Regions from separate parts of the Homo sapiens genome. Here all the other regions are reported to be linked to region 6. Evidence: microRNA targets listed by miRTarBase, many of them from high-throughput screens and not tested one by one. Region 6 holds a microRNA gene; each other region holds the end of a gene's coding sequence. Distances are from middle to middle.
The links. The annotated mature microRNA hsa-miR-574-5p reads UGAGUGUGUGUGUGUGAGUGUGU and lies in region 6 at 2,832-2,854, opposite strand. An mRNA with a match to its seed (bases 2 to 7 or 8) in the 3' UTR can be bound and repressed. Matches are read on the target gene's strand: a 7mer-m8 pairs with bases 2 to 8, a 7mer-A1 pairs with bases 2 to 7 and ends in A, and an 8mer does both.

Region 1: the mRNA of MX2 is a reported target of hsa-miR-574-5p. The part of its 3' UTR that is shown has no 7-base or 8-base seed match.
Region 2: the mRNA of RUNX1T1 is a reported target of hsa-miR-574-5p. The part of its 3' UTR that is shown has no 7-base or 8-base seed match.
Region 3: miRTarBase lists PTPRU as a target of hsa-miR-574-5p. Seed matches in the 3' UTR shown: 8mer at 3,184-3,191 and 7mer-m8 at 3,118-3,124.
Region 4: miRTarBase lists GFRA1 as a target of hsa-miR-574-5p. The part of its 3' UTR that is shown has no 7-base or 8-base seed match.
Region 5: the mRNA of SLITRK3 is a reported target of hsa-miR-574-5p. Seed matches in the 3' UTR shown: 7mer-m8 at 1,073-1,079.
Region 7: miRTarBase lists PCDH10 as a target of hsa-miR-574-5p. The part of its 3' UTR that is shown has no 7-base or 8-base seed match.

Annotation. Positions count from the first base shown.
Region 1 is chr21:41,408,003-41,412,087 of GRCh38, reverse strand. It overlaps MX2 (MX dynamin like GTPase 2), which reads right to left. Exons shown (of 14, transcript NM_002463.2): 14 at 2,695-4,085. The coding sequence ends at 3,855. Among named protein-coding and RNA genes, the nearest start is that of MX1, 16 kb to the left of the region's middle.
Region 2 is chr8:91,956,718-91,960,799 of GRCh38, forward strand. RUNX1T1 (RUNX1 partner transcriptional co-repressor 1) reads right to left here. Exons shown (of 12, transcript NM_175634.3): 12 at 1-3,800. The coding sequence ends at 3,525. Among named protein-coding and RNA genes, the nearest start is that of RUNX1T1, 140 kb to the right of the region's middle.
Region 3 is chr1:29,324,784-29,328,879 of GRCh38, reverse strand. PTPRU (protein tyrosine phosphatase receptor type U) reads right to left here. Exons shown (of 30, transcript NM_133178.4): 29 at 3,554-3,689; 30 at 2,080-3,281. The coding sequence ends at 3,219. Among named protein-coding and RNA genes, the nearest start is that of LINC01756, 23 kb to the left of the region's middle. RefSeq lists a silencer at 2,889-3,183 and an enhancer at 3,113-3,918.
Region 4 is chr10:116,060,825-116,064,824 of GRCh38, forward strand. It overlaps GFRA1 (GDNF family receptor alpha 1), which reads right to left. Exons shown (of 11, transcript NM_005264.8): 11 at 1-3,720. The coding sequence ends at 3,574. Among named protein-coding and RNA genes, the nearest start is that of SNORD158, 130 kb to the right of the region's middle.
Region 5 is chr3:165,184,289-165,188,288 of GRCh38, reverse strand. SLITRK3 (SLIT and NTRK like family member 3) reads left to right here. Exons shown (of 2, transcript NM_001318810.2): 2 at 1-1,569. The coding sequence ends at 392. Among named protein-coding and RNA genes, the nearest start is that of SLITRK3, 10 kb to the left of the region's middle.
Region 6 is chr4:38,866,814-38,870,909 of GRCh38, reverse strand. MIR574 (microRNA 574) reads right to left here and starts at 2,878; the gene lies at 2,783-2,878. FAM114A1 (family with sequence similarity 114 member A1) reads right to left here and starts at 3,104. Exons shown (of 15, transcript NM_138389.4): 1 at 3,076-3,104; 2 at 2,364-2,512. It also overlaps a transcript of TLR6 not described here. RefSeq lists an enhancer at 1,970-2,553 and silencers at 2,761-2,810, 2,861-3,340.
Region 7 is chr4:133,189,877-133,193,972 of GRCh38, reverse strand. It overlaps PCDH10 (protocadherin 10), which reads right to left. Exons shown (of 5, transcript NM_032961.3): 5 at 1-3,832. The coding sequence ends at 3,813. Among named protein-coding and RNA genes, the nearest start is that of PCDH10, 43 kb to the right of the region's middle.

The sequences.
Region 1 (4,085 bases), not on the chromosome of region 6:
CAGACTATGTCAGAGGAAAGATCTGGGACTCAAGGGCTGCTGTTTAGATTCTTTTGTCCCACAGGGTGATCCTTTGATGTGGCGCTCTCCCCCTTCTCCTAGGAATGGGACTTCCTGAGAGCTGGACAGCAGTGATTGTTACTGCTCTTCAAGGTCTAGCCACCTAGTGGAGCTACCAGGCTCTGAGCTGGTACTGAGAGTGTGAAAAAAGCCCTGTGATGTGATACGTCTTTAGGTCTCTCAGCCACAGATACCAGCACCTGCCCTGGTGGAGGTAGCAGGGGAGTGAAGTGGGCTCTGTGAGTGTCCTTGCTTGTAATTTTGTTTAGTGTGCTGGTTTTCTCAAATGCTGGTTATGCTAGCAGTGAAGTTGTCATGTGGACAGATTCAGGACCTCTGGCTAGCCAGGATATTACAGGCAGTGGAATTAGCTGTTGTTTTCTTTTTCTCTAGGGGCAGGGTTGTTCTGTTATGAGTTGCTGTAATGGCTTGAGTGGGTTGGCCTCCAGCCAAGAGGTGGCGCTACAAAGAGGGCAATAGCTGCCACAGTATAGGGAGGATACAAGCTTGCCCTAAGGTTGCCTGGGTAAGTATTTCTGTTTCTTAAGTGATGGGTGGGGCCGTAGAGCTCCCACGAGATTATGTCTTTTGTCTTTGAATACCAGGGCAGGTAGAGAAAGACCATCAGGTGGGGCAGGGTTAGGCATGTCTGAGCTCAGATTCTCCTTGGGCAGAGCTTGTTATGGCTGCTGTGAGTGATGGGGTGTGCTTCTCAGGCTTATGGAGATACATTCCCAGGGGGATTATGTCTGCTTCTGCTGTGTCATACAGGACACCAGGAAGGTGAGGGAAAGCTGGCAGTGACAGGTCTCATCCAGCTTCCATGCAGCCAAGAAGGCCAGTCTCACTCCCACCATGCTCCCCCAACATCCAACAGAGCCGATTTTATATCCATGCCTGTAGTGCACAGGACTGAGATCTTGCCGCAGGTTACAAGCCTCCCTATTGAGAAAGCAAGCAGGGCTTTCAGGCCATGCCCCTCCCCTCCCCGTCATGGCTTCTGTGCTCCTACCTGCACTTCCCATTTCCCCTTCTCCCTGCCCTGGATGCTGTCCAGGAAAACTCACGATCAGTCAGCATTATTACAAAGTTCAGCTGGAAGTCTCCTCCCTGTGGCCCTTCCCCACTTCCACTGGCTGCCCTCCCCAGGGACCCCTGTGAGATTAAAGTCAGAAATGGCTTCCCTGGGTTTCCCTGGGGACCAGGAGTGCCTGCAGGGCTCTTCCCACTGCTTCTACTACTTTTATATTTCACTCGGCTCTCTAAATTTATTTCAGCTCTAGATACTGTTAAATCCTTCCCCTCTGATCTGGATTTTTGGGTTCCCCAGTGAGGATGTGTGTTTGGAGATGCTTTCCCCTCTTACATTTCGGGTGCTCACAGTTTTTTGGCTGTCTCACAGTGTTTGCAGTGACAAGCCACTTTGTTCAAAGGGTCTGTGAATTCTTTTGGTTTTCCTGGTATGTTCCTGTGGTGGTTCTTGGAGAAAAAGCTCACAATGTGAGTCTCCACATGCTGTTCTATCCATCCAAGTGGAAACTGCACATTAGTCCTGCTTCTTACCCACCATTTTCCCTCTGAAAAAAAAAAAATAGCCAGCTTCTTCCTTTTAGGTTGACATTCTTACTTTTGGAAATCAGTGCTAATGAAACCCAAGTGTTCCTTATGGAAATGTAGTTTGAAGAGTGAGGCTCCCTTGGACCTCCCAGCCTTGTCTAGCTTCTGTGTGACTGTGACGCATGGGTGAGCCCAGGTGAGACACACAGAGGAACAACACAGACTTCCCACAGAATCCAGAGAAAGAATACATCTGCTGTTTTAAGCCATTAAGTTTTGGGGTGATTGTTACACAACAATAGATAACTGGAACATATTCCCAAATTCCACGTTTGGAGGATTGCAAGCAATCGATCAATGTCAGCCTTTCCATGATCATCTGGTTTGCTTCAGGCCAGATCTGCTGCCTTTTGAATTAGAGATACCTTTTTCCAAGTTTTTGGTCATTGCTCGAGTTTTGTGTTCAGAATGCACATGTCTATTTTCTTACTTGCTGTAATGGAACAAATTATGCCCCCACCCTCAAATTCATATGCTGATGCCTTAACTCCCAATGTGACTGCATTTGGAGGTAGGGTCTTTAAAGAGGTGATCAAGCTTAAATGAAGCCCTAAGGGTGGGGACCTGATTCAAGAGGACTGGGATCCTTGTAAGAGAAAAGAGAGAGGCCAAGCATAGGCCTGGTGAGAAGGTGGCAGTCTGCAAGCCAAGGAGAGAAACCTCAGGAGAAACCAAACTAGCAACACTTTGATCTCAGACACTTCCAGCCTCTGGAGGTGGGAGGAAATAAATTTCTGTAGCTTAAGCCACCCAGCATGTGATATTTGTTATGGCAGCTATAGCAGACTAATACACTAGCATTTGAACACAAATCAAAGAGACCTCTGCAAGAGAGCTCTTGGGGATGCTGGTCAAGCTGTGATTTTTGACTTGAACTTTCTTTTCCAACATCTTTTACAGCAAATGAAGAAAGAAATTCACGTAATCTTTCTCGTCTGTACCCCTGAACAAAGCTGAATGTTTTTGAGGCACTCTTTCCATCTCAAACTTGGGTTTTAAAACAAATCAGCAATGATATTTATTCTATTGCCTTTTTATTAAGGAATCTATATGTTCATCATTTGAAACATACAGGAAAACATGAAGAAGAAAAGAAAATTACCCATAATGATGATCACTGGTGTGAAGTTCTCTCTCTCTCTCTCTGTGTATGTGTGTGTGTGTGTGTGTGTGTATTCAGAGACAGAGTCTCACTCTCACTCTGTCACCCAGGCTGTAGTACATGGTGCAGTCATGGCTCACTGCAGCCTCAAAATCCTGGGCTCAAGGGATCCTCCTGCTCCAGCCACCTGAGTGGCTGGGACTACAGGTGTGCACCACCATGTCTGGCTACTTACAAACAAATTTTTTTAGAGACAGGGTCTCCCTGTGTTGCCCAGTCTGGTCTTGAACTCCTGGGCTCAAGTGATCCTTCTGCTTCAGTCTCCAGAGTCACTGGGATTACAGGTATGAGTCACTGAACCTGGCTACGTTTTTAAAAAGTTTCTTTGCTTTATTAAATTCCTCTTCAAGACTTAACAGAACAATGGAAGCTCATCATAATCAGGGAAACAAGAAGAAAAGAGAATCACTCAGGCTCCTTTCTGGCGGGGGAGTGGAGAGGCTGGGAAACACAATGACAGTGAACCATGGGAAGCAGGGGGCATGGCCACTGGATCTGAAAGGGACCGGCTAACAGTCACTAAATGTCCAAGGCCTGGGCTTGAGCAATAGCCTCAGGTATCTCCATCACTTACACAGCACTCATTCGTTCAGTGAGATGTCATTTATTAAGCAGTTACAATGCTGCAGGTGCTGTGCAGGAGACTGGACATACAAAAGAAGAATTTGACCCAGACCTTCCCCCTCTGGGGTCTCATAATCTTGTAGGGGGAAGGGAATACAAATACAAATTAGCGAAGAATGATAGCAGTATCTTAGGACACTGTAACTGTGTGCTACGGGACCCAAGGACTGGAGAGCCATCCCTTCGTGAAGGTCAGGGAAGAGCTGGGTGGTGGAGAGAGCTGAGCCTGTGTGGACCCCTGATGCATGCTCTGATGCTGAGGGAGTACAGTAGAGATGGACACTGATAGTGACAGAAGAGTTTGGCCCCAAAGCAGAAGCGGCATCCTGCACCGACTCCCCTTAGAATGAATGAGTACGCACAAGAAAACAACCACAGGCATCGCCGCCCTTCAGTGGATCTCTTTGCTGGAGAATTGACAGAGTGCGTGTCGCGCCTGAGTGAGCCGGTAAATTCTCTCCTTAAGGATTCTTCTCTTGGTAGCGGTCTCACTCTGCTCTTGAAGCAGCCAGGAATAGCGATTTTTTTCCTGTAGTATCTGCATCATGGCTTTCTGCAAGGAGTCACCATTCTCTCGGAGCATAAAATACTGAATTATAAATGGGATCTGGTTGGCGAGACG
Region 2 (4,082 bases), not on the chromosome of region 6:
CTTGTGGTACATGTCTGAATTAAGTATTGCACAACAACTTTAATTTTTCACAATGTCGCAGAACCCAAAATAATATTTTAAAAAAATTACTTCAAATCTGCATTTCAACAGTCTCCAATTTTTTTTCTGTCCCTTGAGGAATTCGGACAACATGGAGTCGCTTTCTTTCCCTAAGTATTCCAGACGTAGGCATGCTTTGCATAAGTAAACCAGCCTTGAAATTTTTAAATCCCCAAGACATGCACCTACACATAAAAAAAAAAAAAATTTAAGAAAAAAAAAAGACAGGTGGCCCTGTCACACACAGTCTCATGACAGAGAAAAAGAGAAAGAGAAAAGAGTAAGAGACAGAGATAAGAGCTAGAGGACGCCCTATTCCTATCAGCGACCACCATTCAATTCTATCCAATGAAGATAACTTTTTCTTAATGTGTTATACCTACAAATTATATTCTCACATAGCCTGTATATAAGTGACAAGCAAAAAAGGAAAGTAACAAAAGTTTTCTTTTCTTTCTCTTCTTTAGGTTTATGAGGTCTGCATTGTTACCAAGAAGTGATATGGTTTGCAGCTGTATGAGCTTAACTTTTGGTATCCTGGTTCTTTTGTGCCCATTTGGTTTGACTAGACCAGTTTTTGTTAGCTACTGGTGCAATATACATGCTGTCAGAGGTAGAGTGAAACTTTTTGCCACTGAGGAGAATGTAGCAAAACAGGAGGAGAGGAAGAGGAGGAAGAGGGGAAGGAGGAAGAGGAATCAGAGATAGAGCTCAGAGTTAGGGATTTTTTTTTGTATTTGTTTTCACTCAGGGTGCCCTGAATTAAAAAGTAATGAGACGTACTGTACTAATCCTTATTTTACACACTAGTGTTAAGAATAACAGTGCTGTTTCACATACATCACAGCTTCTAGAGATAAAGACGTGTGGGTATGACATACCTCATTTTTGGGATTATTTAACCCTTCGTAGCCTAGAACATATAATAGCTCTGTAAGAAAGGACTGTCCAGTGTCACAAGCAGACTAGAAAGCAGAGTGAGGTCAAAGGATTCTGGGAGCACCATGATAAAATATAACCCATTCAGAGCCTGGTTATGTGCTTTCATTTCACTTTAAGCAGGTGTGCTGGCAGATGGACTTCCAACATGTAGATAGATGTATTTATTTGCTCATCAGAACTTTCTAAACTAAAAAGTCATTTAAAAAAAATAACACCACCCAAACAAAATTAAAACCAACTTGTATATGAAAATACAGGGAAGAAATGCTTTTAAAAATGTTAGATTTAAGAGACTTAAAGCAAACCTTAGGATTGCCTCTATGCAGATACTTAAAAGCCACTTAAAACTGTTTCCAAGGCCTACATTTAACCCTCCCCCCACCCCCCGCCCCAAAGCTAATGGATTGTTTTTGATTTTAAAGAAATGCCTGGTGTATATGTATTTGGAGAAGTGTCTTCCCAGCCTTGTAAACTTTGGTTGTCTACACAGCCTGCAGCACTGCTGACTTTCCTAAAGCACACAACCACATCCTGGGCTACTGTTTTCAAAACTAACAAGTAGTTCTGGTCTGGACCCTGGACAACGAAGGGTTAATGGATTCATACTATACCTTGCTGAACATGTTTAACCTGCTGATCATTTGGAAAGTAGTACTGGTGCTTTTCAAAATTCCGATTTTGGTCCATCAGATCAGTCTTTGGCTGACTTCCCTTTTTGTAAGAATACTGTATAACCTGGCATTCAGCAGTGTTAAAGCTGTCAATCTACACCTCAGCATTTGGAGCTCTAATGATTTTTACTTTTGTAAAATTAGAAATACTTAAACGACCTTACAGCAATATGCATGCACTGTCCTTTTTTTTTAAAGTAGGATATCTTGTTATTTTATTTTTTTAAAAAAGTCCCTAATAATGATTTAAAAAAAAAAAAAAGAAAAATTCCACGACTACTCTATGCTACAGCTAAACTTGATGAAATGGCTCTAGCATATTTAAAAAGAATTTGCTCAAAAAAAAAAAAAAAAAAACAAAAAGCATGCCTAGGGAGTCATTGTGACAGTGCAAAATACATTTATGTACATCCCTCTTACAAAAACACCAATATGTTAGCATTCCGTGAAGCATGCTGGTTTTCAGGAAAAAAAAAAATCCTATAAGAGAGTGAAATAGCAGCTCCGAAAGATAGCTTTTCTTCTTTTCTTTTCTTGAGGACAACCAAAAAGAGTCTTTTTTTCCTTTTTTTTTTTTTAACTACTAGAGAAATATCACTAATACATACAGATATAAAAGCAGCATAGAAAGATACAGGTTTCTCACCAACTAGGAATAAAGAGACTAAATGTGGGCATATGGTTAAACTACAATGCATCTTCACATTTGTCCAACACATTTACAAGAAAAACACCATTGGGAAACCTCACAGGACAGAAGTGTTTTAACACCAAGAGAACTACTAGTTTTTAATTAAAAATCCAAACAGGGTGGGGTTGAAAAATTTTGGAAAGGGGCTGGAGCTGAAGCCACCATTTTTAAAATTATTTTTTTCAATATAAAATGAATGAGCTGGAATAGACCCAATGTCTTACTCTGTGGAACCTTGCAAAAGTGAAGAAACGTTGAAGGGTTATTTAGGGCAGCTGGCTGATGTCAAAACTGCCAGAATGCTAATTAACTGCAGGCTGAGTCTCTTACTTGTGTGTGTGTGTGTGTGTGTGTGTGTGTGTGTGTGTGTGTGTGTGTGTGTGTGTATATGTGCGTGTGTGTGTGTGTATATATATATATATATATATATATATGGAGCCTTTTGTATTATGGCATTTTTTTTTCTTGCTGCTGTATTCATACATCCCATTGCAAATCATCTTTCATTTTTCATTCTGTTGACCTGGATATTATTATTTCTTTTCAGAAACAGGAAAAAAACCGAACATCTGTGTCTCCTTCCAATCTGCTGCACATCTGCGCGTTTTGTAGCGGGTCTTCAAAGTTCAGTTAGCAACCCACGGACGCCATTCATCTTCTTGTTAAAATGTCTACTGCTGTATCCAATGCTCATGCCCTTGAGGGTTTTCCTCTTTTTTTTTTTTCCATTATTGTATATAAAGAACATTGTGACTTTTAATATTAGCATTTTTGCTTTCAACAGCAATTAGCAATCTCTTGGTTTGCTGTTTGGTAAAGCATCGGTTAATGAGGTCATCTAGTTTAAAATCCCAGCTACTTGAAAATAACAGGGAGGAGGTCAAATCTATCATTTCATGTTATATTCTCTGCTCTCTTTTCAGTTCTCTAAAGAAAAGATATCTTTGTTATCCACAATAAGTCATTACGACCCGTTACTGGCCCTCTGTGTTTTACTACCACCTCAAGATACAGTTAGGTTCTCTCTTGCTGAAGTACTGAAATAGGATAATTCATCTAATAAACAAACAAACAAAAAAAACAACTTTGAGCATCTGAGGATGAGGAATTGGTTTCGCGTTGGTTGTGTTGTCTTTCCTCCGACAGTTCTGAGTTCACGTCTAGCGAGGGGTTGTCTCTATGGTGGAAGGGGTTCCCGGGGTGGTTGACCTCGGAGTGGCTGCTGGTGGTGTGTCCATCGGGCTCCCAGCCCCGCTGTTGGGCGTGACAGAGGAGCTGACTGCAGGTGTGTCTCCCTGCTGCTGGGCCTGCAGGGTCTGTCCACAGATGTGATGGTGCTTCTCCCAGTCTTTGTGCTGGCAAAATGAGCCACAGTATCGGGCTGTGTTACAGCCACTGCAGGTTTCACTCGCTTTACGGCCACAATTCCAGCAACTCTAAAGGAGAAGGCAGAAGAAAGCAAGATCCCAAGTTAATACACTGTTAAGACAATAGTCTGACAAATATGTTAGGCATCACTGTAGCCTTATTTTCAAGAACTATACAGTCAGGATGAAAAATCCAGGTGTTCACGTATGGATACAAACACTAAACACAGAAGATGCAGGTTTTGATGGGATGGTTGTCCAAACTGCTCTGCCAACAACTACTATGGCATCTGACAAAGCAGTTGAAGACTTTTTAAGTTCTTACTATAACATCCTTTCTTTTTAGGTTTG
Region 3 (4,096 bases), not on the chromosome of region 6:
AGTCCCTGCTCTGCCATATAGTGGCCAGGTGACCTTGGGTGAGTAAACTCACTTCCCTGAGCCTCCATGTCTTGTCTCTAAAATGGAGGGGTAGGAATCCCCCCTTTAAAGAGCTGCTGTATGGAGTAAGGAAGAGCCAAAGGGTGTAGGACACATAACACAGGAATAGGCACTAGATGAAAGGTGATCGTCACCATTTTCATTATCCAGGGGCTTCAGTATTATGGCGTGAGATGCCCTTTATTGAGGGTCAATTATGTCACCAGGGAGTATGCTGGTTCCTTTTAAATATTTTGTCCCTAGACCTCACAACCAATCCTGCAGGTAGGTCCTGTTATGTTTATTGCAGGGTTGTTAGGGGATTGTGCAAGGTCACCCGACTGTGGGTTGTGGAGCTGGGGGCGGGACTATGGGTTCTGGAGCTGGTGCTCCTCCTAATACAGAGCCCACCTCCCCAGCTTCTCTGAGAGGCCACACAAGGCCCCTGGTCAGTCGGGCAGGCAAGTCCAACCTCTCCTTCCTTCCCTCCCTCGTGCCAACATTTCCAGGGCACTAGCTCCATGACAAGCCCCTTACTGGGCAATGGACACAAGATGGCACAGAAATACTCCCTGCCCTTGAGGAGCCAGCACCGAACAGAGCAAAGGGCCGAGCCGCATCCAGACTGCTCCGCACGCGTGTGTATCAGTTAGCAAAAACTAACTGTGTATGTAACAAGTGATTTCAACAGACTGTCTTCAAAAAAAAAAACCATTTATCATCTCTCCCAGTTCTAGGGGTTGGTTGGGCAGTGTCTTCTAAGCTTAGCCATGTGGCTACACTTACCTGACAGGTCAGCTAGACTGGAAGGTTCAAGACAGCCTCACTCACAGCCTGGGAGTTGCTACTGACTGTTCATGGCACGCGCTGGTTCTCCTCTGTGTGCCCTCAAATCATCCGGTAGGTGAGACAGCTTCCCTTGTATAGCAGAGTTCCAGAAGAGCAAAAGCAAAAACTGCAAGGCCTCATGAGACCTGGGATCCAGAACTCACACGCCATCACTTCTGCCCATGCTATTGGCCAAAGCAAGTCATATTCTATCGCTTGGCCAGTACCCGTGACACACATTTGTGATGCATCGCGTAAGGCTCAGAGGTCAGCTCAGAATGAGGATGAGGGGGTCAGTCTGTGCCCTATCCAAGTGTGATCCTAACTGGCCAATTAATTTTTAACTCAGATTAAAGTATGCTGAATTGTGAGGTCATTAGAATGGGTTGTATCCTCTGACCAATGGAGAAACTGAGGCACAGAGGGTCAGCCAGTGTGCAAACAGAATGAGTACATCATAGAGTCAGCCTTCATATGAAGAAACTGAGTTCCAGAAACAGGAATTGTCTTGTCCAAGGTCAGGCAGCAAGCCTGTGACAGAGTCAGGAGTGACCCAGGTCCCTACCAGCCAGCCTGCTCCTCCTCCCTCTCTACCCCATGGAGGCGGCTGGGGCTGGGAATGGGCTGGGCTGGGGCAATGGGACGGTCATCCCCAGCAGGGCTGTGTCTCCTCTGCCCCCATCTCTGCGATGTTTGTAAAGTAAGCCCTTTCAACACGCTTGGCACTACATAAGGCACTTAATCATTACCTCATCTGATCCAAACAGGACTGTCCCCACTTTACAGATGATAAAGTAGGCCCCAGAGAGGGCACTAACTTGCCCAGGGTCTCGCAGCTGCTGGGCCCATCTGCCTGACACCAAAGCCTGAGCCTCCCATGCTGCCCCAGAAAGAGCTGAACCTGATCCAGGGCCCCCAGTGGAGTGAGAGGCAGCTCTGTGGCCCTCAGGGATCTCGAGTTGATATACCCTACCTGAGGAACTGCTTCAGAGGCCTGGATGGGGACAGCAATGGCCAGGGTCCCTTGGAACCAACTCTGAAAGTGGAAGGACCCTGAGTGATGTCCTGGTCCACACTCCCACCATTTTACGAATGGAAAAACCAGGACCAGATCAGAACCCAGGCTTCTCCAGGGCCCTCCCACTGCACTGGAGGCTGGGGGCAGGTGAGCAGGCCCCGTCAGGCTGGTGAGACACACACAGGGCTGCTCTGTGGCATTCAGAGAGCACGTTTATTTACAAAGCGCTTTACAAACATCAGCTTATGCCTCCCCACAGCCCCCTGCGAGGTAGGTCAGTAGTCATATCTACAGTTTACAGATGGGGAAATTGAGGCACGGAATGGGGGTGTGGCCTGCCCCATTTTAAAGAGACCTTCCCACCCACCCAACCAAAAATAACAAAAGAAACAAAAAAGCACTGGTCCTACCTCTTCCTCTGAACTCCAGAGGGTATGACCAGCCCTGCTCTAACACTGCCCCTCCCCACAACGGGCAGCCTGACCAGGAGCCACAGGGGCCTCAACCCCAGGGGCTGTTGTTCAGCCTTGCAGATTGTCACTGGCCCAAGCTGAGCAGGACAGGCCAGTGAGGCCTGAAGATTAAAGGAAGAGGGGGGCGAGGTGACTTCATTCTGCAACAGTGGGTCAGGCAGGGAAGGAGCCCCCCATGGGGCACAGCAGTAATAGGCAGATCCTGGTTCAGGGAAGCTCAGAGCACATATCAGGGAAGCAAGTGGGGAGGGATAGTGAGCAAAATATCTCAGGGGCTGCAGGGGGCAGTGGGGAGGAGGGCGCTGCAGTTCCCCTGGGGAGGACAGTCAGTGTGCCCCACTGGCTATTCAGAATTGAGACCTGCTTCCCCAGGACCTTCAGGGGCTGGGCCAGATGGAATCCTAAATGCCAAGTCCCAGTACATCCTCTACCCACATGCAGAGGGGGCAGGCTGAGTGGGAACCTTGGCCTGGGATGCTCTCTGCAGGGCCTCACTCATCCCTGCCAAAAGCCAGGATGGTGCCAAGGGGCTTGGCCTGAGTCCCCCAGAGCCAGCCGTCCTGAGCCTTTGTCACTCTGCCAGGCAGCACCAGGCCTCTCAGCACAGGCCTGCAGGACCCTATGGAGGTGGGGCTGGGCTGCAGACTTGCTAAGCTCCTCCTTGGCCCACCACCCGCCCATGGGACAAGCGAAAGGCCCTGCCCACAGTGGAAGGGGGAGCAAGATAGCCCAGCATCCACTCCAGTGCTTGCCCCATGGGAGTGTGTTTGGGCAGAGCAGGAGGCACTGATCTTCCTCGCCAGTCCAGGATGGTGGGTCTGGCCCTGAGTGTGCAGTGGGTGCCCCAGGCCAGGGCCCCGCTATCTTGACTCCAGCCCCTCCAAGTACTCCAGGGCCACATCGTAGCAAAAGTGGTACTGATCCTGGGGAGAGGAAGAGAGGGAGGGAATCATGAGCCTGACCCCAACTCCAGTATTGTGGGGGGAGGGGAACGGGGAGTGAGAGGGCAAGCACGAGCCCGAGCCCAGGCCCGCCCTCGGGGAGAAGGGAGAAATGGGGGTAATGTTTTAGGACCACAGGGCTAGAACCAAGGCCCAGTGGTGGGGCCCAGATATGGGAGAGTGGGTGCTAAGGAACCTGGCCTGGCATGGACCAGGAAGGTGGAAGTGGCTGGGCACGGGACACAGCCCCTCACCATGGTCTCCACCATGTTGGGTTTGTAGTTCCGGAGGGTTTTGGCAGCAAAGAAAACGTCCACCAAGTTGTGGCAGCGGATCATCTCCAGGACCGTGGCGCAGGCGCAGAAGGTGCCGCTGCGTCCTCCCCCGTTTCTGAATGAGAGATGCAAAAGCTGAGGGGCGGGGCCTTGGAACCTGAAGGTAAGAAAAGGGCCAGGGAACCACGAGGGAGGGGCAGAGAGCCTAGAGGAGAGGGACGGAGCTAGGGAATCTAGAAGGGTGGGGCAGAGAGCCCAGAGGTGAGGGGCGGAGTTAGAGAACACAGAAAGGAGGGGCCCGAGAGCCTAGAGGAGAGGGGCGGAGCTAGGGAACCCAGAAGGAAGAGGCCAAAGAGCCCAGAGATGAGGGGCAGAGCTAGGAAACCCAGAAAGGAGGGGCCAAAGAGTCCAGAGGTGAGGGGCGGGGCTAGGAAACTAAGGAGGGCCAAAGAGCCCAAGGTGAGGGGCAGAACTAGGGAACTCAGAAGGGCGGGGCAGAGGACCCAGAGGTAAGGGGCGGGG
Region 4 (4,000 bases), not on the chromosome of region 6:
GCATGAATGAAAACTTATTTTCCAAAAGACAGCTCCTCTGAGGCCACAATTTTGTAAATAATAACAACAGAAATACATTTCCGCTGAATTCTGAGAAAAGAATTCGCTAATTATATAAACTCCCACTGCTCTTACATCTCTTTTCCCAGGCACTTTACATGGACTCCAAAATGCTTTGGCTCTCCCACTCTCCTAGTATAGCAGATGGAGTGCTTGGGAGTGTCTGATTTAGAGACAAGAAGGCAAGAGGGAGACGGGCGGCAGCTAGAAGCGGCCCATCCTCAGAGTGTATGCAAGACAGGAAGTGTCTGAATATGGACCAAATCAAAGGCTGAGGCAGCTCTGGGGGAGCCCTGTCCGGTGTTTGAGGAACTCGAAGACACAACTTCTAAGACATTCTTACTACAGCACAAAAGTCTGTTAAAAAAAAAAAAAAAGAAATGGAAACCACACTCCTATCACATTCTAGATCGTTTGCTATACTTCATGAAAAATAACCTATGTTAATCTCAACTTATACTTTTTTTATTACAGACTTGAAAAAAATCAGGTATGGAAAAATAAATATGTAATTGGCATTCTCAATTCCTTCTCTATATTGTGTGCTTCTTCCTTCATGTGCTCTATTAAAAAGATACTCAAGCATGTATCGGTCAAAAATATTCAACATCAAAGTGGAATGAATGTGCTTCTAATCAGTGTGGCAATACTGCCTTTATTCCCCCTCTCTTTCTCTCTGAAATAAGTAGGGCATGGCTAGATGTAATCAGGGAGTCACGGTCTGCATGGACCCTAGTTACTGTTTGGTTTCATCAAAATCAACTGCAATGAGATACTTCCTGCAAGACACCCAAACCTCAGCAGATAACCCCTGTCTTCAGTGGCACCCCAAATGCCCGGACTGAAGGACAGGAAGTAGCGAATCATTTTTGCTTTTAAGCACGCCAAGAAGAAGTGAGACAGGTAAATGATTTAACTTATTGTGCTCCAGTTCTGGGGCAAATGATGGTGTTTTAGGGTCACCGTGTCAAACTAAGATCACACTGAATGGCGGAAACCTTGCTTGGCTTGCTTTGATAAGAATCTCTCTAACGTGTTGTCCCTGAACAAGATGCTTCCCCCTATTTATTTAATCAGCAACTGATTTTCAAATTGAGGAGCTGGTAACTTGAATATGCTTTTATCACTGAAGAAAAATGAGATATTTGTTGGTGACAGATGAGGCTTTTCAAAATGTAATTTATATATTGCCTACCCATGCATTCTTCAATGAAGGCTGCCCTTGTTAGCGCTGAAACTCCCATTTCCGCTTTGGTCATCTGATGCTAATTAGAGCTGCTGTTACTGCAGAAGTAATCAGTAGCTTTCTACAGTGGATCACATAGAATCAGATCCCTATGAAATTAGTCCAGTGTAGATACACAGAGATACCTTAATGAAAACAAAATACACTCTGTAAGAGATATGCGCTCATAGATAACTGGCATTCCAAATATTTTGACACACTTACTTAATGTGTTTATTCAAAGTAAGAGTCTTTATAGATCTTTTCACTAATTAAATACAGTTGGGTGTCTGCTGAATTTCCCTTGAAAACATTTTGAAGTGAAAAAAGTCAGTACTGAGTACTGTACATTTGTGTTGATTAACATTTGGACACAAATATACTTTTAACACCAATAGAGCTGAAAGACTATGCCTTTATCTTGGATTTCATAGATTTCCCCTTCCCCCCAGTGACTTATCTTACAAGGCAAACACCAGCAGGCAAAGGGGATCTGTAGAAATGTGCACCCTGGTTTCCTCCTCCATCTCTTCTACCAATGTGGGAAGAAAGCCAATGCTTCCCAGCACTTTCTGAAGGTGGAATCTCCTCCTCTTTACTTAATGTTGGAGAAAAGTGGCCACCAGTACTCGATCATTGTAGATTCGGAATCTCGCCATCTAAACCAGACTTCAAAAGTGCACTTTCGGGTCTACTTAGTTAAGAAAGAGAATAATGGAAGATGATAAGTGGTTAGCAAAGCCAGATGCCTTATCACCAGGGTCCTGTTCTGCTGATCTGTGCCAAGCAACTCATCTCACCAAACCTAATGTCAACCCTCTTGATCCACAAACCTTCCTTCTCTTCTAACATGGTCTGCAGTCTGTCACGGAGGACATGAAACAAGATGCAAGCAGATCCTTAATGACCTTCAGACCAAACTGCTCCAAACAGTGGCCAAGACGTTGCAGTCAGGAGTAAACACAATCCTTAGGAAAAGAACTGTGCATCCCAGCATGGATGTGTTTCCAAAGAAAGGAGAACCTGCCCATGCCTCCATGTCCCAATCAAAGCTGCCTTTGTCAGATAACCTGAAAACCAAGGTACTGGATTGTGTCATGACAAGTGTGTCAAGAGATGCTGCAGAACATTTACAAGCAGCCACCAGTTCCCTCCACAGGTATGCACGCTTGCACTTCGAGCAATGACAAAAGACAATGCTTGTCTGTTCTGTTTCCTCCTGCCTGTCCACAGTCACATGATGCAGAACTTTCTGCTACAGCACGAGGCTTCTCAGAGTCTGCTTTTGATGAGCTGTATTTGTGAAGTTCATATCAGAGCGAACACTACTTATGAGGGGAAAGAAGCTCTGTGTATTTTGTATTAAACCATCAGTAAAAAAATGAGACAATATCATTACTTTCAAAATATAGAAAGCCAATAGTTGAAATCATTTAGTAGTAAAATTTTTTTCTACATATAACCTCATATGTGTAAAGAGTATTAGAGCGACATTTCAGCTATATTGGACTTTTGTTAGGTAAAGGGCTTCTCACTCAGGTAAGGCTTAGGATTAGGAGAGTGTCGTTCAGGGATTGAGGTATTGAATCGGCACACTCATTCCCCACTCTCTATTTTGACGAAAAGACAGATACTATATTTGGATGTGACAGGTGTTTTTTCTTTTGTACAAGAGTGCAGAACTGTTTACAGTACATAAACATCAGCGTGGAAAATGCTAGTACATATATAAAGGTGAACATCAGTACCAGCTGTTTCCACAAAGCCCACTCTTGGTAAGAATCTTCTTTGTGGCAAAAAAGCTTGGCATCAATGTAGGCTGAAATTTATATCATTAGAAATCAATGTCATTAAAGGAGATATGGGAGTTACCTTAGAAATATTAACTCCTTCTCTAGCTAGGAAAGGCCAGAAGTAAAACTGTTAAAATCATCATCATGATCATGATGATCATCATCATGATCATGATGATCATCATCATGATCATCATCATCATCGAAAACACAGCCCCAGTTTGCTTTACAGCCCAAGTTACAAACTGTCCCTTTAAAATACAGCATATCCCAAAGCCTTCTGAGTTTGGATGGAGCACTGCATCAGGTTTTTCACAGAAGCCCCAAAGGATCACAAGAAGCTTTCTTAAAAGGAAAAAAAAAAAATGTTCCAGTTGAATGGAACTGTTTCTCAACTGAGCTCCTAAACTGGAATTTCAGCTATACAAGAGAACAGGAAACAGATAACTTGGTTTTTGTCTTTTTACATGTCCATATTGTATTTTTTTAATGCAGCTATGATGTTTCTGTTAAAGATAATAGGGTGGACAGAGCGGTTACCACCAGGACCAGCAGTGGGCTCAGACCACAGCTTGGAGGAGCAGCCATTGATTTTGTGGTTATGTGGCTGGAAGCACCGAGACCTTCTTTTTCATAATTACCCTGTAAGGAAGAATGGTTTCATTATCATCCACTGCATGTCTTCATTCTACCACAGTATACTTTACACTCTCTCTCCCCCCGACTCCCCACTGGCTGACCCACTCACCAAAGCTGACCAAGATTTTACCACTGAGACTTACATTCACTGACTTGTAGTTTTATGGGAAGAAACCATGAACCTGGGTTAGAACCAGATACTTTTGATAAAGCGTCTGGCCAATGCTTACTGCTTGCTCTTCCATTAGGAATTATTAAATTCATTTTGGGGGAAGATATCTGA
Region 5 (4,000 bases), not on the chromosome of region 6:
GAGTAGTTGGGGGAACTGGGGGAGACTTGGCAGGGTTCCGCCACCATGAGAAAAATGGTGGGGTGGTGCTGTTTCCTCCTGGGGGAGGCTGTGGTAGTGGCAGTATGCTACTAGATCGAGAGAGGCCACAGCCTGCCCCCTGCACAGTGGGATTTGTGGACTGTCTCTATGGAACAGTGCCCAAATTAAAGGAACTGCACGTGCACCCTCCTGGCATGCAATACCCAGACTTACAGCAGGATGCCAGGCTCAAAGAAACCCTTCTCTTCTCGGCTGGAAAGGGCTTCACAGACCACCAAACCCAAAAAAGTGATTACCTCGAGTTAAGGGCCAAACTTCAAACCAAGCCGGATTACCTCGAAGTCCTGGAGAAGACAACATACAGGTTCTAACAGAGAGAAGAAAATATATTAGTGCTTTTTTTTTTTCAAAAGAAAAGGAAAATAAAAGAAATATATCCCTTGCTCCCTTTACACTTGTCCCAGTAACTCCATCCTCACGATCTTTCCTACCCTGAACAAAACTAAAACCGCATGATAACTAGAGAATACAGATGTATGCTCTCCCCTCTCAGATGCGATTTGGAGGAAGGGCCATACTCAGATCATTAATCAATGAAAGTGCCTTCGCAGACTTTTGCCAGCAAATGTTATCATTATTTTTTTATACTGAAACTTGAGACTTTGACTGTGCCATGTATAAGATATACTGGGGATCATTGTATGGATCCTAATTAAGTAAAATTCAATGTGTCTTTTTATTTTCAGTAACTATTTTTTTTATAGTTGTAGTTTTGATTTAAAGGGGGGGAAACAAGTTGACATTTGTCATTTGTGGCTTTCTTTCTTATCATCATGGCACAGATTCTGTACATGTATTAACAATGCAGTTTGCTGCATGCCTGGAAACTGCAAGATGGGGAGGGAGGGGGCGGGTCTTGCTCGAATGTTCTCACTCACTATCTTGTCTCTCATACACATATCCATCTGCAGACCATGGTCCCTAAACCTGCAGTTTCTTCCTGCTGGTGCAGGTACACACACACACACACACACACACACACACACACACACACACTCCATACCATTTCCATTCAACTCAATCTGCTTAGTTCGGGTTTGATCCATTTTTCTCCTCTCCATAGTTCTACCACCCTTCACTGCTAGTGTACAGCTCACAGCATCTCTCCTACCACCCTGGGAAAAGTCACATTCTAGGCTGGATTCTACTGAAGTAGAGGCCTGGTGGTTTAACAGCCGAAGACACACGCCTAGGGATGAGCACCCTCTTTGTGACACTTCATCCTGATGCCAAGATTTTTTGGAGAACATCTGCACTTTCTTATATATATATATAATATTAAAAAAAGCAACTGGGTATATATCACTAACAGCTTTGTAGGAAGCACTTTTAATGTTTTCTCTCTCACACACAAAGATTCAAAAGAAATGTGCATATATTTATTCTGTAATTTCAGTGATTATAAATTGTAAAGGTAATGTTTAATCATTGTATAGTGATTATGCCTCTGGTATAGCTTTCCTAATAAAAAGTTTTTGAAAAACATAATACATTATATATAGAGGATACAAAGCTTGAACCTTAAACTCCAGCTATGCCATGCCTTTCGTGCTTCCATTTTAGAAATGATTTCTTTTACTTGTTACACAGAAAGTAATTTATTAACGGGTTTGATGCACTGTGATGTTGATAAATCTTATATCCCACCATCTCTAGTCCAAACCAGGATACAATTGAGACTTAAAATGTGACTTACGGTTTACTTTTTTTTCCTTGAATTATGAATTTCAGTCTTAGTAACCAGTGATGCACTGTTTCCCAGGCAAGATGCAAGGGGGAGAAAATAAAGTAACTAGATCGCTAAGAAGTACAGGATTAATTAGGAGAAGATAATCTAGGATCCATACATCTTAAGATAATAAATGAGATAAAGAAATTGGAAAGTAAAATTGCTATTGTTTTTAAAATATGTAGTCCAATTACATGCACACCCTCACACACCCACACGCTTCCACACACACCCACACAACCCAATAAATATCAAAGGCCGTGGAGCCAATTTAGATGGCCAGAATCCTGTGAAAGCTGTCACTTATATTTGGTTACCATTTTCCAACCACTTACAGCAACTGGCCCCAATAACGCTTGAACTAAGTCAGAGGATGCTGAATGAGTTTTTCGTCATATGACATTAAAATTATGTTGAAAAATTAACCTGACAACAAACCAAGTTTAGATCCATTTATATGTGAGCGAAACCAAAGAATATTGGATTTTTATGGTGCCGGTATCAAATTGGTGGAGGAAACTTAAGAAAACAGACCTATGAGGCAGGCACTTATCTAAGTAGGCCATTAGAGGGCAGCAGAGTTCCAGAGATCCACAGACCCAGGACCCGCAGAACTGTGCAGCGAGGTCAGTGCTCTCTGCTAGGGTTTCCTCAAAGTGCCCATAGCAGGAATTATCATTAGGTGTTGAATGTAATTCATCACAAGTCACTGAAGCCTTACATCACAATTTTTTCCACAAAAAGAGAATGAGTCTAGCAGCTTCTGAAGGTGTGTGACTACAATAGCACGAAGGCATTGTAGTAACAAAATGAAAAGCCCCATGAATGTCTACAAGAATATATTTATATTCCTCTTAATTAATTATATAGAAATATCAGCATAGGTATGCATAAAAATAAAAAAGACAAGTATATACATATAAAATTGCAGTTTTGGGGCTCTTGACATGTATCTATAACTTTTATGCTCAATTATTTGAATATAATTTGGAATTATTTTAAAAGGAAAAAGCCCATGAACATCATTCACTTTATCTGTCTGTGTAATATTGAAATGAAGCTCTTATGCAGAAGAGTCAGGCCAATTATTAGATAAGTGTCATTCTTCTTTTTTGTTTTATCTTCTTCTTTTCTTTCTTGTTTTCTTTTTTTACTTTCCCACAAATCACCTTTCTTCTGGTTATCCCACCTCCTTTATTCTTTCTAATCATCTGTCTCTTTTTTTTAAGGTACATAAAACCAATATTACACTTTAAGTGTTTTAAAACCCAAATTACAGAGTCTCTCTGAACTAGCAATTTATCATACTTCCATTCCTCCTAATCAAATGGTTTGGGGAATAATAGAAAGCATATGCATAGTAAAAACTTAAAAGTGCAAAGCTAGATGCTTCAGATAGTAGTCCTCATTTCCTTAATGACCACGCACATATTCATAACACAGCATTTTATACAAATCAGGCTAAAGTACAATCTCAAAAGACCCTGGTGCTTTCAACGTTTGAAAAATGAGTGCCCATAAACAATATCAAATCACAATATAACTTGATAATTATAATGTTTATATTTCACTTATTAAATACAGAAAGACTGTTTGGTCTTAAATATAGGTGGTACTTTCACCCTTGAATGAGAAATAAATTTATTTATTTAGCAAAAATAAATTTATATGAGAATGGAATTTTGTATTTAAGGGAATAGTTTTTTGCTTTTATGGAATTTTCCACCCCCTGGTTAGGACATTTATTTTTGCTGTGCATTCAAATTACCTAAGTTAGCTTCAGTTTATAATACTAGATCTGATTTCATTAAACACGATGGATATTCATGTAGGTACTATGATTATAATATGTTTTATGTTTTTGCTGTAGTAAAATATTTATTTTTAAGAAAAAGTTAGATTACTAATTCACTTCATTGTGAGGACTAACTTGACTAAAGCAGACCCAGTTCTGGCAGTTACTTGCTATTATTCATTGCTATTTTTATTACCAAGTATAGTAATAATATTTAGAAATAATAAAAATATTGTAATATCTCAAACTATAAGATGATTAGTGAGAAATAATTGGAAATGAACTATTAGTTTAATTCAATAAGTTTTAACATCATGTTATACATCATATGTGGTATTATTTATGTAGATGTTTTTATATTTTTATTTAGAATGCTATATTATTTTATGTAATTG
Region 6 (4,096 bases):
ATGATGGGGGAAATGTAATCATTTTTCAGACTATACCCTTTTGTATGAAACCACTAGAAACTGTGTGTTTGAAATACAGAACTGTTTCTGAGCAGGGGCTGCTGGAGTCCACCAGGATTACAGTCATGACAAGCACTGTGTTTCCTGGGACGGTTTCCATCTCCGTCTGGGTGTTCCATAAGCCAGACTTAGAAACCTTTCCTGATTTATGGTTAGGAACACTGATCACTGTAGCCATGTCTCGTGGACTGGAGGCTAGGGAGACTCAACCCACAGAAACAAGGAGGCTGCTTCAGGAAACTCTAAGGAGAGGAAGGGTGGCATATAAAGAAGCCTTTGTGGGCTGGGAATAAGTTAGTTTTTCGTGAGTAAATTCATTCATCACCTAAAATGCTCCCAGAACTATGCAAGGTATTTAAGCAGCAACATCACAGCTCCAAAAATAAGTATAAAACAGAAGACATGGTCACTATCCTTCAGAAATCAATCATCTGTTTGAGGAGCTAACACAAAACAGTTAAAAAGTGATGCAAAACAGCACAGCAAATCAAGGACAGATGTGCCTGAACTAGACTGACCCTGTGCAAGGGAGAATCTTGAAAGTGTCTTTGATGTGGTGATTCAGGCCTGGTGGGATGAGAGCATGTGCAAATGTCCAAGCATCAGCGATGGACTGTAGTGATTCAGGACAGGTGTCTGAGAGGCCAGGACATGAGGCTGCATGGAGGAATGATGAGAGGTGGGAGCGATGGTATTCTGAGGTGGAAAGAGTTGTGTCCTGCAGGCGTCAAGGGATGTGGCCTCTGGTCCCAGTATCCCTTTGTGGGCACACAACTTGATCCTCACTGTGCTTACACCTGCTCCTCTGTAAAGCTAGGATGGACAAACTGATCTGGATGCTTTTTTTTCCAAACTCCACCTGCAGGACTGGGGCAAGTCTGTGATGATAGAGAAAAATGAGGACAAGATTGCAAGTTTTTCATAAATCTAAATTTATTAAATGTAAAGGACTGCCTTCATCTTTCAAGTTTAGCCTTTGTGCTTTTTCTTGGTATTAAAATGTCTTTCATTTTATGAAATAGTGACAGTGGATGGATTTTTTTAAAAAAAATGGCCTGACTTGGCAGCATAAAAATTTGGTTAGCATGATATCCTGTGTGAGGTCATCTCCCCCAGTTAAAAAAAAAAAACAAAAACAGTGCCAGTCAGCGAAGGACCAGGAATAAAAACTCTGGATGAGAGGCTCTTAATCAGGTTGTAGCAGTTTGTATGAGTTTGTATAAAGCTTGACAAGTCTACGTACCCAGGCTCCAGCCTATTCTCTGTGAGGCTGCCAGGCATTTTTGGACCTATTTGCTCTCCTGTTCAAAAACCATTAGGTGTAAATATCTTCACACTTCCCATCATAATCCAGCTCCAATCTCTCTCCACCTCTTGCAACTCTCAGTATCCTCCACTCCTGCCTCACCAGTCTTTTCTCCATTCCCCATAACTCTTCACATCTCCCTGCCTTTGCTTACGCTGGTTCCTCTGCCCCGGTGCTGCCCTTCCTCCAGCTGCCTGGCAAACTCCTATTCCTCTAGACACCCAGTGTCTAATGTTACCTTTCATTCTGAATTTTTCCTTAATCTGCCCCACTGCTTCCAATGAAATAACTGCTACCTCTTCTATGTTTTTGGCACTTTGCACAGATTTCTATTCCATGTATTTATGGAGTATTTACTTCTGCCATTCTGTCCTCCAAGACTGTGACCAACAGCACCTAGGTTGGTTTCTGTCCCTCAGATATTTACTGAATTGAAATACATTGTGTTTGATATTAATAAAAGAGAAACCATGTTTGATGTAAGCCTGGTCAAATAAACAAAGACAAGTTTACTTTTATGGTCTGAATCGCTCAGATTCAAGAAAGCCCCCTCCAACCCTCAAATTCCTTCTGCACTGTCTCACTTGTGCCTCAAATCCATCCCTAACGTCTCATTCCTTCACTTAAAGGTTACAATGTAAGAAGTTTATCAGATTCTTTCCCAAGCTCAGGCTTGATGGAAGAAAGGAGGGCGGGGACGCAGGCCTATGGGTGGGGTAGGGAAGGAGCCACTAGGCTGCAGAGAGGGCAAAAAGAGGCTCTGAGGATAGAGCCTGTCTCATTCTCAGTTGTCACAGGTTGGCTGAGGTCACAGGGAGTTCAGAGCACACTGATTTAAGAAGCCACCTGCCTGTGTCCTTCAAGATGTTTAGGATGGGAAATGATGGGATCAGTAGGGCATAGGTAATGCTCTCACAGCCCATAGAGAGATGTCTTCCTACTTAAGAAAAGGCAGTGACGTTCAGGCGCCTGGTCTGAGGTGCCTGGAAATACTCACCGGATGGCAGAGGCGAGGGCTAGCCGACTGGGTGGAGGGGGCCTGGGGATCTGCGGTAGGGAGTGGGACCCATCCCGGGGGCTGCGAGTGGAGGCGGTGCCTGCTTAGAGTGTTGGCTGGACTGGAAGAGCAGGCAGGGCGTGGGTCGGCTGTTGGGGGAGGAGTAAGGCGAGGGGAGCGGGGAGGTCAAGGCCTGAGCTCCCTGTGCCAAGGCCGAGGGCAGGCGCACCCTGGGACGAGGCCTCTGTCTTACAGGGACCTGCTCCCTTCGTGCCCGGGCTGGGGGACCCTGCAGCCCACCTCTGACTTGGCCCCGAGCCATTGGGGGCACTTTTCCAGACTTGCTTGGTGCCAGGACTGGATACTTTGGGAGATCCAGGCAGGCTCCGCGGAGGTTCACGCAGGCCGAGGGGGCAGACCCTGAGTGTGGGCGTGTGGGTGTGTGCATGAGCGTGGACCCGGAGCGACACACACTCACACACACACACTCACACGCCCGCACCCACGCAGGTCCCTCGGCCGCGCCGCCCCAGACCCTCACCCCAGAGCCGGGTCCTCCCTGACCACTGCTTCTCACTAACGCAGAGGGCAGGATTCGTGGGTCCCGGACGAGGCGCCAAGGTATGGTGTTCCCACCACCCCCGGGCAGCCGCCCCCGCGCTCGCCCGCCCCCCGGGGAAGGGGATGGGGACCGAGTGCCCGGGGCTCTTACCGCTCAGGCGGCCGAGTACGCGCGGGAGTGCCCAGCGGGTCCCGCCCCGCCACGTCTGCAGGGCCGGCGGGGACGCGGCCGGAGGGCGGGCGGCTGGAGAGGGGGCCCCGCCCCGCCTGCGCCCCGCCCCACGAGGAGCGCCGCGGGGACGCCCGGCCACCCCCACGCTGCGAGGGCCGGGCCCGCGCTGGGCGAGTCTCCTGGAAACTTGGCTTGTCCCACCCCTGTGCCAGCGCGGAAAGCCAGAGCGCGCCGCCTCTCCAGCCCAGGGCGGGTGGGTCTCGGGGTTCGCCAGATCCCTTTCCTTTCCTTAAAAGGGCTTGGAAAACCCCCCGCCGTGTCACTGGGAAGAGGTCGCTCAAATTCAGCTAAAGTTTGATCTCCTGATTCTGCGTTAAGCAGCACTCCCTTGCCCTGTCGGTGGGAGTGTGATAGATTTAAAACAAACAAACCCCAAACAAACAACGAAAACCCACTTTCCAGAAGGCCAGTTTGGAGCTGTGGGTTAAAACTCCGATGTATTAGCTTTGGCCTAGGAATTCCACATTTGTGAATTTGTCCTAAGTAGGCAGTCAAATGGGCAAATATGTATGTACAAGGATGTTTGTTGTAGTTGTTTCTGCGGGGGGAAGCCGGAGACAATCTCAATGTCCCCCAGTAAGATTGGTGAAGTAAGCTACAGTAACTTCAGACATCGAATATGTTGTAGCCCTTAAAAATGAGGATTCGTTGACATGGAGGGAAGGCCACATATGAAGGCCTTCCTCAAATATGGCTTAATATGAACTCAGATGCGGAGGAAGCGCAGTGTTTATAGTATTAACTAGTTTTGTAAACAATTTTGTATTTTCTATAAAAGTCGGAGGAAATACAATTTAAAAATAGTGATTCTTTCTGAGCGATGTGTTTAAGGCAGATTTTCTCCTCTCTCACTCCATCCCTTCTTCTTTTTGAAGAATTATAAATTCAAAGTTAAAGAAAAAATAGCCCTAGTCTCTCCCTTTCAATATCACTACCATTT
Region 7 (4,096 bases), 94 Mb from region 6:
GTTGAAGTACTAACAATATATAAAATAATTTTACTACTCCATGGTGTAAAAAATATGGAATTCCATTATTTTCTGTTTTTCCTTGTTAAAAAGGAACACAAAAGGATGTTAAGTGCAAAGCCTTTACCACTACAAAATTAGACTTGAAAAAGATAAAGAACTCAAGAATTTGTAATATGAAAAATATAAGATTTTCAGAAAAATCATCAAGTATACCAATATTTTAAGTATTTTTGAGTTCCTTGGGTATCAATAGCACACATAGAAACATGAGGGGGAAAAACACATGCAATGACAAATAACAGTGCTATGATCAGTCAATAACTTAAATACTTTTCTTGATCTTGCTGAACTTTTGCCACACTCTGCCTGAGTAATTGTTTTAAAGACTAACTGAGCTCCAGTAAATAATGTTTAGAAGGTAAAATGGTACAATTAACGTACAGTTGTTAAAGATTATATTGGGAATTGTGAGATTCTTTTTCCTCCTCTTATTGAAGAAGCAAGATAGCTTCTATAATACAGAGAATCTGATGGCAAATTACAATCCAATTAACAAATAAAACAATGAGAAATTAAAATATTTAAATATTCTACTATAGTTCTTAATTTGCAATGTTTGATAAAGGCAGTGCATTTAATATCTTTAAAAAATAAAATACACATATTTCCTTAATATTTGCCAAGAAAAGATGATACATATATCATTGACGCTATTATATCTGTGAAGTAATTCTGATGTGATATTTAAATTTGATTTAAGATGATTTCACCAAACTATGTTCACACGTTAAAAATTAGAATTCTACATGTGGATGAAATATTTTCTAAAAATTGTCTTTTGACATACCTTTGAAACATTAAGACACTGTTTCCACAGGAAATTTTTTTTGACTTTGACTGCTCTAAAACTAACCATGTTAACAAGGAGTAAATGACATGATTTTTTTTTCTGAAATAATTTATTGACGAAATACTGTCTAATACGATGGATATTATTCTTTGATGTATATAAAATTATGTAAGATTGGATATTAGAATGACCAGATTAAAGAGAAAACCTATCCTAAAATTCCTTGATATATTAATCTAGTAAATGCTTAATTAGAAACCTTCATTATTTGTTGGTTGCACTTTCCATTTTATAGTCCCCCTCATTGGAAGAAAACATTTTAACCAACTTACAAGAATCATATCCTTACTCTGTTGTAACTTCTAATTTACTTTGGATGCAACAGATAAGTTGATTAATGACCTAATAATGTAGCATTTTATCCTTAAACAATTCTATTTGTCCCGCAAATTAGGAAGAAGTTCTGGTTTTGGTTTTGTAGATTGATGATAACTAAAATGTAAGTTAGTATAACTAGTTCCTAGGATATATGAAAATAACTAATACACAAATATATAATAAAAAAGTTGGTTCAAAGGAGATTATATACAATGATATAAAAGGTTAAATAATTAAAGAAAATGTCTTTGAGGTAAATGACAATATAATTACTATACATGAAGTGAGTATAATCTTATTTTCAATGCATGCAGTAAGGAAGATGGATGTGGATATTCACCCATGATTGCAAAATGATGCGTGAAACATTTTAATTAAAGCAGAGTGACTCAACAAGAAAATCATTTTCTTGCTAAAAAAAAGAGTTGGAACAAACAGACTTTTTTCCAGTTAAATTATGTATAAACATTTCCTTACTAAAATAGTCTATCATTCAAAATATTAATGTAGTAATGCCAAAGTTTAAGAAAATGTTACTGCTGCACTTAGTGAATTTATGTGCTTTTTGTATTACATATGATCTGTTAGCTTCATATATGTTTAAAGAGACTTCAAAAGGCTGGAACATTACATACATTATTTTGATATATGAACTGATTGGAATATGATATATTAATATCTAATTTGATAACAGTCAAATGAGTGATACCAATATATCACTCTAAATGTACATATCAGGACCTAAGTGTGTGTGTGTGTGTGTGTGTGTGTGTGTGTATATATATGTATTTTAAAGTTAAATCTAGGGAAAAATTTCCACTTAAGTTACATAAAATTTGATGAAGAACATTTGTCAAATGTTAAGTTTTAGTCTATTCTTTAATAACACAGTGCAGCTCAAACTGTCATTGAATATAAGATCAGTTAAAAATTAAGGAAAGTATTTCAAAACAGGTTTCTAATTTGAACTGGGCAAACATTTTGATATAATGTTGAAGCTTTGATATGATGTTTTGATATCATAGTTTAGAGGGCGAGGGGAGCTGTGACAATTCTGTTTTTTGCTTGAAAGATTATCTTATATTCTCTGATTTTTTTCCTCTCTCGAATGTGTTCTAACAAGGCATACACAACAGTAGAAAAAATATATAAAAGAAAGGAAAGTGCGTCTTACTAAATTTAATAATTAATATTGTTGACATAAAAGTAAAAGGCAAGCTTAACTTTTGAAGGCTGACTCATGAAGAATTTTTTCATTAATCAAACACTGACTACATTTAAGCTATAAAATTTTCACATGGAATACTGAAACAATAATGTACCATGATTCTATCTCTAAATTTATTTTAAATTTAGAGCTTTCATATTTTATAGTTATTCTTTACCAGTTCAGATGTTTCTATATCTCTATATATTCATATAGAATTATAGATTTTATATTCATGTGTAATTAAGTCACAAAACTATGTAAAATAAAATTCTGTGTGAGTGATATGACTGATGACTTCTTAAAATAGTAATCTTCAATTACATATTTTACACCACAAAATGTACAGACACCCAGTTTTTTTCTAACAACAAATACAGGTGAATTTATCGATTCTTTATAAAAGCTTTAAGTGATTCTAAATTCAAAGTCATAGAAATAGAATCAGACTTATGCAGATTGTTAGATAGTTTGATAGTACATAGTCAGTGCTCTGTCTGATAACATCAATAGCTACATCTTTGGCATTGAAAATTCAATATGAGTTTTTGACAAAATTTTGTAGCTTAGAGCATCATTTTCTTTTAAACAAGGAAAAACACGGTTGAGTAAGATATGGAAATTGGGAGAAAACTATTAATGATTTTTTCTTAGTAAGTTTGTCTTTGGGACCCTGAATTACCTTTTATTTTATTGTATGATGTGGACTGTATGCATCCATTTAAAAACCAACTGAGTTGTACCACATTTTAGGAAAATTATATAATATAATATATATATTTTATATTTATTTAGAAGCTTTGAAATAGTACAGTAAACACTTTGCAACACGGTGTATAAACTACAGAATGTCTTTGATATTTTGTGGGTCTTCAGAATACAACATTTTTTATAACCCACAGGTGAAAAGAACATAATCACAATTTCTCTTGTAAAGTTGGAATAGCTTGCGGAACACTTGATCACACAAAAATAATATAAAACAGTCAAGTTTAAAACAGTGATATTGCATTTATAATGCACAAATTTCCTTTATCTTTATGACTGGCTTCTCGTGGTGAATATAAACATCTAAAGGGCTCAGTGACATTTGGAGAGAGAAAGATAGATAGTGCTGTAAACAGGCACACACTGATCGGGGAGGCAAAATCTGTTGCCTCTAAAGTTTCTACAGTTCTGCACATTTCAACTCATTTCTCAGGCCTGCTGAGAGCAATTAGGTCCTATAATTGGCCATGATGACTCCATCCGAAATCTAATACTCAGTTACACATGACTAACTGGATGGCCAAGATAATGAAGTTGAAAAGTTGATGCTTTTGTTGGTCGACTTTGTGCAAATCATGCTGCTTCAGGTAAGTCCTGTAGAATTGACTAGCATATCCTTTTCCGTGCTGTGAAAAAGAAAGAAAAATACTCTAAGAAAAAGAGGTTGACTTTTGGAGTTTAGAATTACACATTATTGTAAAAGAAAGAATACAGTTAGAAACTAGTTGTACCCTCATACCAAACACATGTAGTGTCAAACTTTTTCACTGCTAGTAGTCACAGCCATTCTGTTGTTTGGTTTTCTGAGAATGATAATTTTGATATTCTTATAAATTAGTTTTGCATGGGAAATGTACATTTTATATACCAAAGATGAAATTTGTGAAGAT